Linked DNA regions of Homo sapiens: regions 1 and 3 are each linked to region 2. The links come from fine-mapping of genetic effects on gene expression. A gene starts in region 2. Each other region holds a variant in brackets. All regions are shown on one strand. Distances are between the middles of the regions. Region 1 overlaps ZNF550 (zinc finger protein 550). Region 2 holds the start of ZNF549 (zinc finger protein 549). Region 3 overlaps ZNF550 (zinc finger protein 550).

Evidence for each region. PIP is the estimated chance that this variant, and not a neighbour inherited with it, causes the effect.
Region 1: its variant is fine-mapped to the expression of ZNF549 in cerebellar hemisphere (GTEx, PIP above 0.99). The same link has a PIP of 0.9 or more in cerebellum, skeletal muscle and whole blood.
Region 3: its variant is fine-mapped to the expression of ZNF549 in anterior cingulate cortex (GTEx, PIP 0.97).

Annotation. Positions count from the first base shown.
Region 1 is chr19:57,556,021-57,558,783 of GRCh38, reverse strand. It overlaps ZNF550 (zinc finger protein 550), which reads left to right. Exons shown (of 4, transcript NM_001397372.1): 2 at 2,427-2,553. Among named protein-coding and RNA genes, the nearest start is that of ZNF550, 2.5 kb to the left of the region's middle. The variant T/C (reference allele first, on the strand shown) is at 1,251.
Region 2 is chr19:57,525,698-57,528,460 of GRCh38, reverse strand. ZNF549 (zinc finger protein 549) reads right to left here and starts at 1,105. Exons shown (of 4, transcript NM_001199295.2): 1 at 855-1,105. The coding sequence starts at 887.
Region 3 is chr19:57,551,768-57,554,530 of GRCh38, reverse strand. It overlaps ZNF550 (zinc finger protein 550), which reads left to right. Exons shown (of 4, transcript NM_001397372.1): 3 at 1,809-1,904. Among named protein-coding and RNA genes, the nearest start is that of ZNF550, 6.7 kb to the left of the region's middle. The variant A/G (reference allele first, on the strand shown) is at 1,612.

The DNA.
Region 1 (2,763 bases), 30 kb before region 2:
AGATTACTGTCAGCTCCTGTCGTAGTTGTTAATTTCTCATCCACCTCTCCCTCCTTTGCTTTATTTCTGACTCCCTCTGGTGTCCGCTGCTTAAAGAGGTCTCGTCTGTTGCACCGTTTAAAGCTGACCAGAGTCTCTTTGGTCTCCTTGCTCTGTTTTCTTGTCATCTGAATCTTTAAGGCCATCTGACATTGCCTTACTCATTTATTTAGTTGCCTGTTTAGGATCTTTTTCCAACCCTGGAATGTGAGTGCCTGTTGCTTCCCTCTCCCAAGACCCAGAACAGCCAGGCTTAAGTACATTTATTGTACTTAATAAATGGTTGATGATTGAATAGGCCTCTCTTATAGGGACTCTCATCACATTTCCAATAAATCCACCCCCTCCTACCAGCATGGTCTGCAAGGCTGTACTTGGTTTGCCCTTTTGACCGCATCTTCTTTCTCCTCTTCCATTGTCCCCTTTCTCACTGCATTCATCCAGGGAATCCTGAGCTTGCCAAGCTCTTTCCCATTTTCAGCCTTTGCCCTTGCACTTCCCTTTGTCTGAGACATTGTTCTCAGGTCTCTGCGGGGCTGCAGTTCCACACCCATCCTGGCAGTGCTGGCTGTAGCTAAAAGCACCCCTCACTCCCACCTGCCTGCTCTCTGGCAGCTTGGTGAGGTGTTTTAGCGGTGCTCAAATGCTGCTTTTGCTTTTTAAATGTGAGGCTGTGCCTGATTTCTAAAGCTCCCTGAGCCTTTGCTGACTGTGAAATGGAAGTGATAACGACATTTACCTCTGGGCCTGTCAGGGGATTAATAAAGTTCCCAAACACATCAGGCACTTACATGTGCTAGGCACTCCACTGATTGCCTAAGTGAACATTTTCTGTTTAGTTCTTAGAGCTGCCTGCTGAGATGGGAATAGTTATTGTGTTGATTCGGAAATCGAGCCTTAGAGAGATCATGTGACATCGTCATAGTCACATAGCTGGCAAGTGTCAGATTCAGGAGGCCTGATTTAAGTCAGGCCTTTATTTGCTTTACCACGGCTAAGGAAGCCTTAGCCTGGCAGGGACACAGTGAGGACCAGAGGACTTAGTGAAGGGTGCCTGCCCCTCTACACCTGTGGGTATTTCTTGCAAGGTGGAGATGAGAGACTGAGAAAAGAAATAAGACACAGAGACAAAGTATAGAGGAAGAAAAGTGGGCCCAGGGGACTGGCACTCAGCATATGGAGGACCCACACCAGCACCAGTCTCTGAGTTC[T/C]CTCAGTATTTATTGATCACTATCTCTACCATCTCCATGAGGGGGATGTGGCAGGACTATAGGGTAATGAGTGGGGAGAGGGTCAGCAGGAAAACATGTGAGCAAAGGACTCTGTGTCATAAATAAGTTTAAGGAAAGGTGCTGTGCCTCGATGTGCACGTAGGCCAGATTTATGTTTGACTTTACCCAAACATCTCAGTGCAGTAAAGAGCAGTATTGCCGCCAGCATGTCTTACCTCCAGCCATAAGGCGGCTTTCTCCTATCTCAGTAAATAGAATGTACGCTCGGGTTTTACACCAAGACATTCCATTCCCAGGGACAAGCAGGAGACAGATGCCTTCCTCTTATCTCAACTGCAAAGAGGCCTTCCTCTTTCATGAATCCTCGTCAGCACAGACCCTTTATGGGTGTCGGGCTGAGGGAAGGTAAGGTCTTTCCCTTCCCACGAGGCCACATCTCAGGCTGTCTCAGTGGGGGGAAACCTTGGACAATACCCAGGCTTTCTCGGGCAGAGGTCCCTGTGGCCTTCCGCAGTGCATTGTGTCCCTGGGTACCCGAGACGGGAGAATGGCGATGACTTTTACCAAGCATACTGCCTGCAAACACATGTTTACCAAGGCACATCCTGCACAGCCCTAACTCCATTAAACCTTGAGTCAATACAGCACATGTTTCTGTGAGCACAGGGTTGGGGCTAGGGTTACAGATTAACAGCATCTCAAGGCAGAAGAATTTTTCTTAGTACAGATCAAAATGGAGTTTCTTATGTCTTCCTTTTTCTACATAGACACAGTAACGGTCTGATCTATTTTTCTTTCCCCCACACTTAGCTGCTGCTGTTGCTGTTATTGTGGTTGGATTAGTATCAGTCATTTTCCTCCATTCTTTTAATATGCCAGAGTACTTACTCTCTGCTTCCCATAGTCCTCGTGGGATTGCCATTGTTTGTGTCATCTTCAACAGCTTCCCCATAGAAGGCTTTTCTCTCAGGCACAATTGCATTGTCAAAAGGCAGTATCTGCCTCCCCTTTGAGCCCTGCACGGAAGTCAGCCCAAAGGAGACCTAGTTGATTCAGACCTGGATCTCTCTGCACATTGACTAGAGACTGAGTGACAGGTTCTGATCCTATGCGACAACACAAGGCCAATAGCATTACTTCTGTTTGACTTTCCAGATGTTGGTGACCTTCAAGGATGTGGCTGTGACCTTTACCCGGGAGGAGTGGAGACAGCTGGACCTGGCCCAGAGGACCCTGTACCGAGAGGTGATGCTGGAGACCTGTGGGCTTCTGGTTTCACTAGGTAATGACTCACCTCTCATCCCTGAGGAGGACCCTAACCCTGATTCTTGGCCAGGCAAAAAGGTCACTGGAACTGCCCACCTTTCTCTTGACAGACCTTTCTGTTCCCACCTCTTCCTGACTGGTCTCCCTTTGTCTGCATCAGAGATTGTCGGGGTAGAAAATGTCCTTTTAACACAAACCCTCACTCCAGTGCTCAGCCCATTCTGAG
Region 2 (2,763 bases):
TTGGCTTGAGTCTACGCCCCAGCCTGTCTCCATTTACACATCACTGAGTCAGTCCCCTCCCATGAATTTTCTACTTATGATTCCAACTGCCCATGTAACAACTTCACTCTGTGGCAATTTAGAAACACCACGTCCAAAATTCAACTCCTACTATTTCCCTGAAACCTGCTCCCTCACCAGATTTCTTTGTCAACTCTTCCAGATGTTCAGGTAAAAGAAAAACTTGGGATCATACTTCACTCCCACTTTTGCTCATAGGCACAAATGATGGAGCAGAAAATCCTGCTGGCTTTACCTTTAAGATCTACCAAGATTCTTATTACTTAGGTCCCTTCAGCAACCCGTCTGGTCCAGAATCCACCATAATCCTCCTGGAGCCTACTACAGCAGTCTCCTCACCAGTATCCCTGCGTCCACCCCCATCACTCCGTAACAGTCTGTTTTCTCCACTCATTGCCTTTGAAATATTTTTTCAGACCCTCACTCAGATCGTGTTCTCCTTTAGTTCACAACCCTCCATGGCTCCCAAAGACTCAGAATTAAAAACCCCGGTTGCTCAGGCTGCCATGGCAGCCGTGCCTTCTTCTCCTCATTCTCTCTGCTCCCTGCAGACACAGGTCCGCCCCCAAGTTTCCGAATGCTCGCGACCCCGGCGCACCTCCCAGGCTCTGCGCGTGCAGCCCCCACGGTACGCAACGCTCTCCCTTCTTCACCTCACCGCCCGTCAGCTCTGAGGACCCCACCCAGAACTCCTCGCTGTCCTGGAGAAGAGGCCTGAACTGCAGAGACCCACGCAGGTGACCCCAGTCCGGGGCCTCAGGACCCAGGTGAGGATCCGAGGACTCCGCTCTCACCTGCGGCGTAATCACTAGCGCTGCCTCGGCCATGGGACTTTAGGCGGGGCGGGGCCTGGAAAGGCGGGCGGTAAAGCCCGGGATCCGGCGTGCGTGCGGTGGCAAATCGCTGGGCGACGCTCAGACCGAGACCAGGCAAGCTCCTCTGCGGGCGGACACCACCTCCACCGGTTTCCGGCTCCAGTTACCTGGCCCGGACCCAGCGAGCCGGAAACGCCCAGCCCGCGGACGCGCTCGCAGGCAGCAAAAACGACCACCACCGGAAAGACGCCGGAAGATTCTGGCGTATTGCGCACTTACGGAGGTGCCCCTTTCCTGGGCAATGATTGGTCTAAGGCCCCGGCACGCTCGGCGCACAGTATTCTGGGTGGTGTAGTTCCTACCACGCCGCAGTCCGCCGCGCTGTGAGGACTCAATCCAAGAAAGAGAGGACAAAGGAAAAAACCCATCAAACTAGGGTCAGCAAAGCCTATTACATACACAGGATAAAAGAATACGATTTGATCTTCATTTCTCAACACAAAAGTTGACATATATTGCATACAATACATTAAAAATGTTGACAATTGAGAATTGACGCGACCCTTAATTTTTTTCTTTTTTTTAATGTAGAAACTATAACCAAAAATAAAATTCAAAGGCCTCCCAACTATCTGAATGGACCCCCTCCTCTCAGCATTATAGAGTTAACCTGAAAATCTAGTTCAGGCCATTATGGAAGAAGGGGTTGGACATGCCTCATTCTACCCCTACAGCAATAACATCAGCATAGACCTTAAGTCTGATAAGAAACATTTACAATCTATTTCTCTGAAACTTGCTACCTGCAGGCTTCATCTGTATGATAAAACCTGGGTCTCCAACCAAGGTGATCACTAACAGTGGGGTCAGCATCCCCTTATCCCACACGTTTGTGTTTATTCTGTTTTTTTGCCCTCAAGTGTTAGTGACTTAAATTACATAATGTATCTATTATCATAAGTGGAACTGAAATGAGATTGCAGAAACATTATATCTTCTTTTTCTTTTCTTTTTTTCCTTTTTTTTTTTTGACAGAGTCTCACTCTGTCGCCCAGACTGGAGTACAGTGGTGCAATCTCTGCTCACTGTAACCTCCACCTCCCAGGTTCAAGCGATTCTCCTGCCTCAGCCTCCCGAGTAGCCGGGACTACAGGCATGCGCCACCACCCCCGGATAATTTTTGTATTTTTAGTAGAGACAGGGTTTCACCATGTTGGCCAGGCTGGTCTAGAACCGGCCTCAAGTGATTCGCCTGCCTTAAAGTGCTGGGATTACAAGCATGAGCCACCATGCCTGGCTTTTTTCCCCCATATTTAGCAATTAGCTTTTGTTGCTATCCATTGTCTTCATTTCTCTTTAGTTTTTAATTGTTTATAATTTTGACATTTTATAATTACTTAAGAAAGGTTAGAAAAATTACCATTTAGATTGGAGTCATATTAAATAAGACACCTATATTGTAAAAATATCTTTATGAATGTAATCTTTGGCTATAGTGTTGTAACCGAGCGAGTTATAGAGAAATGCCACACTCTGAGACTAATTCTGGAGTCCTTTTATTGCCAGCGACCGAGAGACAGCTAGAGCTCAAAATTCTTGGCCCCGAAGAAGGGGCTAGATTTCTTTTTATACCTTGATCTAAATAGGGGAGGGGGAGTTTAGCTGAAGCAATTTTTACAGAAGCAGAACAGGCAAAAAGTTAAAAGATAAATGGTTACACAAACATTTACAGGAAAATAAACAGTTCCAGGTGCAGGGGCTTAATTATCACAAAGTGATAAACGCAGGGGCTTTGGGTACCATTAACTGAGTGCGTTCCTAGGAGCTGCTGGTACAGCGTGCCTCAGTGTCTATCAGTAAGTGCATTCCTGGATGTGCTTGGAGTCAG
Region 3 (2,763 bases), 26 kb before region 2:
AAACTGGCTTCACCTGGAAGGAAATTCACTAACTCGCCTGATGAGAAGCCTGAGGTGTGGTTGGCTCCAGGCTTGTTCGGTGCCGCAGCCCAGTGACGCCATCAAGGATGTCTTGGTTCTCTGTTCCTTCTTCTTGGTTCAGGCTTCTGATTGTCCTCAGGCTGGCTCCTCATAGGGATGCTGGGTGCTGCAGCCTTGACTGGGGCAGCAGGCCCCCATGTTCAATCCATCCTCCCACCTTGGAATAAATGCTTTCTTTTCACAATGAGAATCCAGCTTTGGTCACCTGCCTAATGAAGACTCTTGCATTACCAATTTATTTCAACCACTGGTTTTTCTTTTCCTTTTTTTTTGAGATGGAGTCTTGCTCTGTCATTCAGGCTGAAGTGCAGTGCCATGATCTCAGCTCACTGCAGCCTCTGCTTCCTAGGCTCAAGCAATCCTCCCAACCTCATCCCCTTGAGTAGCTAGGACCATAGGTGCACACCACCATACCTGGCTAATTTTTTATATTTTTGGTAGAGACGGGGTTTCACCATGTTGGCCAGGCTGGTTTAGAACTCCTGGCCTCAAGTGATCCTCCTGCCTCGGCCTCCTATAGTGCTGGGATTACAGCATGAGCCACCATGTCCAGCCTCAGCCAGTGGTTTGCAGCCCCATCTGGGCACCAGAATTTTGGGGGGCACATTTTGGAAGTACTGATGCCCAGGTCTCACACGAAGAAATTTTGTTTCATTTGGTTTGAGGTTGGAATCACGCATCCCCAAGTGGTTCTGAAAGCACGAGGTGTTTGAGAAGCAATGATTTAGATTTGTTAGAAAATGCCTCCTGGGGCCGGGTGCAGTAGCACCTTGGGAGACTGAGGCAGGAGGATCACTTGAGGCCAGGCACTCGAGACCAGCCTGACCAATATTGTGAATCCCAGTCTCTATTAAAAATACAAAAACTAGCCAGGCATGGTTTTGCATGCCTGTAATCCCTGCTACTCGGGTGGCTGAGGCACGAGAATCCCTTGAACCTGGGAGGCAGAGGTTGCAGTGAGCCGAGCACTGCACTCCAGCCTGGGCAACAGAGTGAGACTCTGTTTCAAAAAAAGAAAGAAAGAAAGAAAGAAAATGCCTTCTGGAGGAAGCAGCACACCTTTGCCGTGTCCCATGGCTGTCAAAGTGTTGTGTGCCTGAACAACGTTGGCTTCCATAGACGGAGGTCATGGGCAGTGGGTGTTGTGTAGACAGATAGCACTACCCTCCATGGCAGTTGTAGCCCAACAGTGGGATTTGTGCCTGTCTTTTATCTCCTTGGCTGCCATAATAAAATGTCATGGATTGGGTGGTTTAAACAACGAGAGTTTATTTTCTTATGCTTCTGGAGGCTGAGAAGTCCAAGATCAAGGTGTCGGCAAATTTGATTCCTATTGAGACCTCTCTTCCTGGCTTGCAGATGGCTGACTTGCTGTGTTCTTACAAGGTGGAGGGACAGAGGAGAGATCTCTCTCTGTTTTTATGAGGCCATAATTTTATCAGATTAAGGCTCCACCCTTGTGGCCTCATTTAATTTTAATTACCTTCTAAAGATCCTGTCTCCATATACAGTCACGTTGGGTGTTAGGGC[A/G]TCAACATATGATTTTTATGGGGAACACAGCTCACTCAGAGCAATGCCCTTGATTTTCAGGGCTCACATCAGCATTTTGCTTACTTTGGGAGCAGCTGCATTCATGTCTGGACCCTGTCATGAAGTCCTAGGCAAGATGGAGAGACTTTCATTTTCTCATTAAATTACCCCTATTCTATTTCTTTTGCTATCAACAGGGCATCGGGTTCCCAAACCAGAGTTGGTCCACCTGCTAGAGCATGGGCAGGAGCTGTGGATAGTGAAGAGAGGCCTCTCACATGCTACCTGTGCAGGTAAGCAGCCACCAGCTGGTCATGTGGAGTCATGGCAGTCTTCAGATAATGTGAGGGCACCACTGCCTCTGAATTTCTGTGTGAAACTGCTCATTGTGGCTTTCCGGGGGCCTGGTTGTTTCTGACTCACTTTGGGTCATAGTGTCCATCATCAGGTGAGCACTGAGCCACACAATTATTCAGAGACACAGGTACCTTTTGCTGTGAACAGGAATCTTTATGGTTGCTCTGGCTCAATCCAGCTGGTAGAAGGGGAACAAGAAGAAGGGGAGAAGTCATACCCAGTTGTACACATACTTGACAACCACATAGTCTTGACAAGAACTAGGCATTTGGCCACACCTAGATGCTCAGGACTGACAAATGTGATTTGGCTATGTGCCCATGGAAAAGAATTAATGGGTTTGGTTTACATCACCTCAGACTCCTCTACTCAACAAAATCAGAGTGATATAATTTCTGTGTCATTGAGTTGTTAGAGGATGTAGAGATAACACATGACACTGCTTAGTTCAGTTCCTGGTCCATAGGATCAACAAATGTCAGCTAGTTAGTATTATGCATGAACAGTTTTAATCATCATAAATGTAATGTCATACATTTCTTTCTGGACTCAAGAGAAAGGGGACTTTCCTCCCCTTGATATTACTGTCTGCATTATGCTGTGAATCCCACTCTTTTCCACCCTCTCCGTCCACTCATCCATCCTCCAGTTAGACCATCAGAGACTCGGAAGCAGCCCTTTGCTCCATATCTTCCTGCCCCTCTTGCCCTGAGAAACACCAAGGTGACATTTGGCCTTCTCTGCCCTACATCTGTGCTGATGAGTGTAGCTGGAGCCATTTGCCTTGTGGATTTG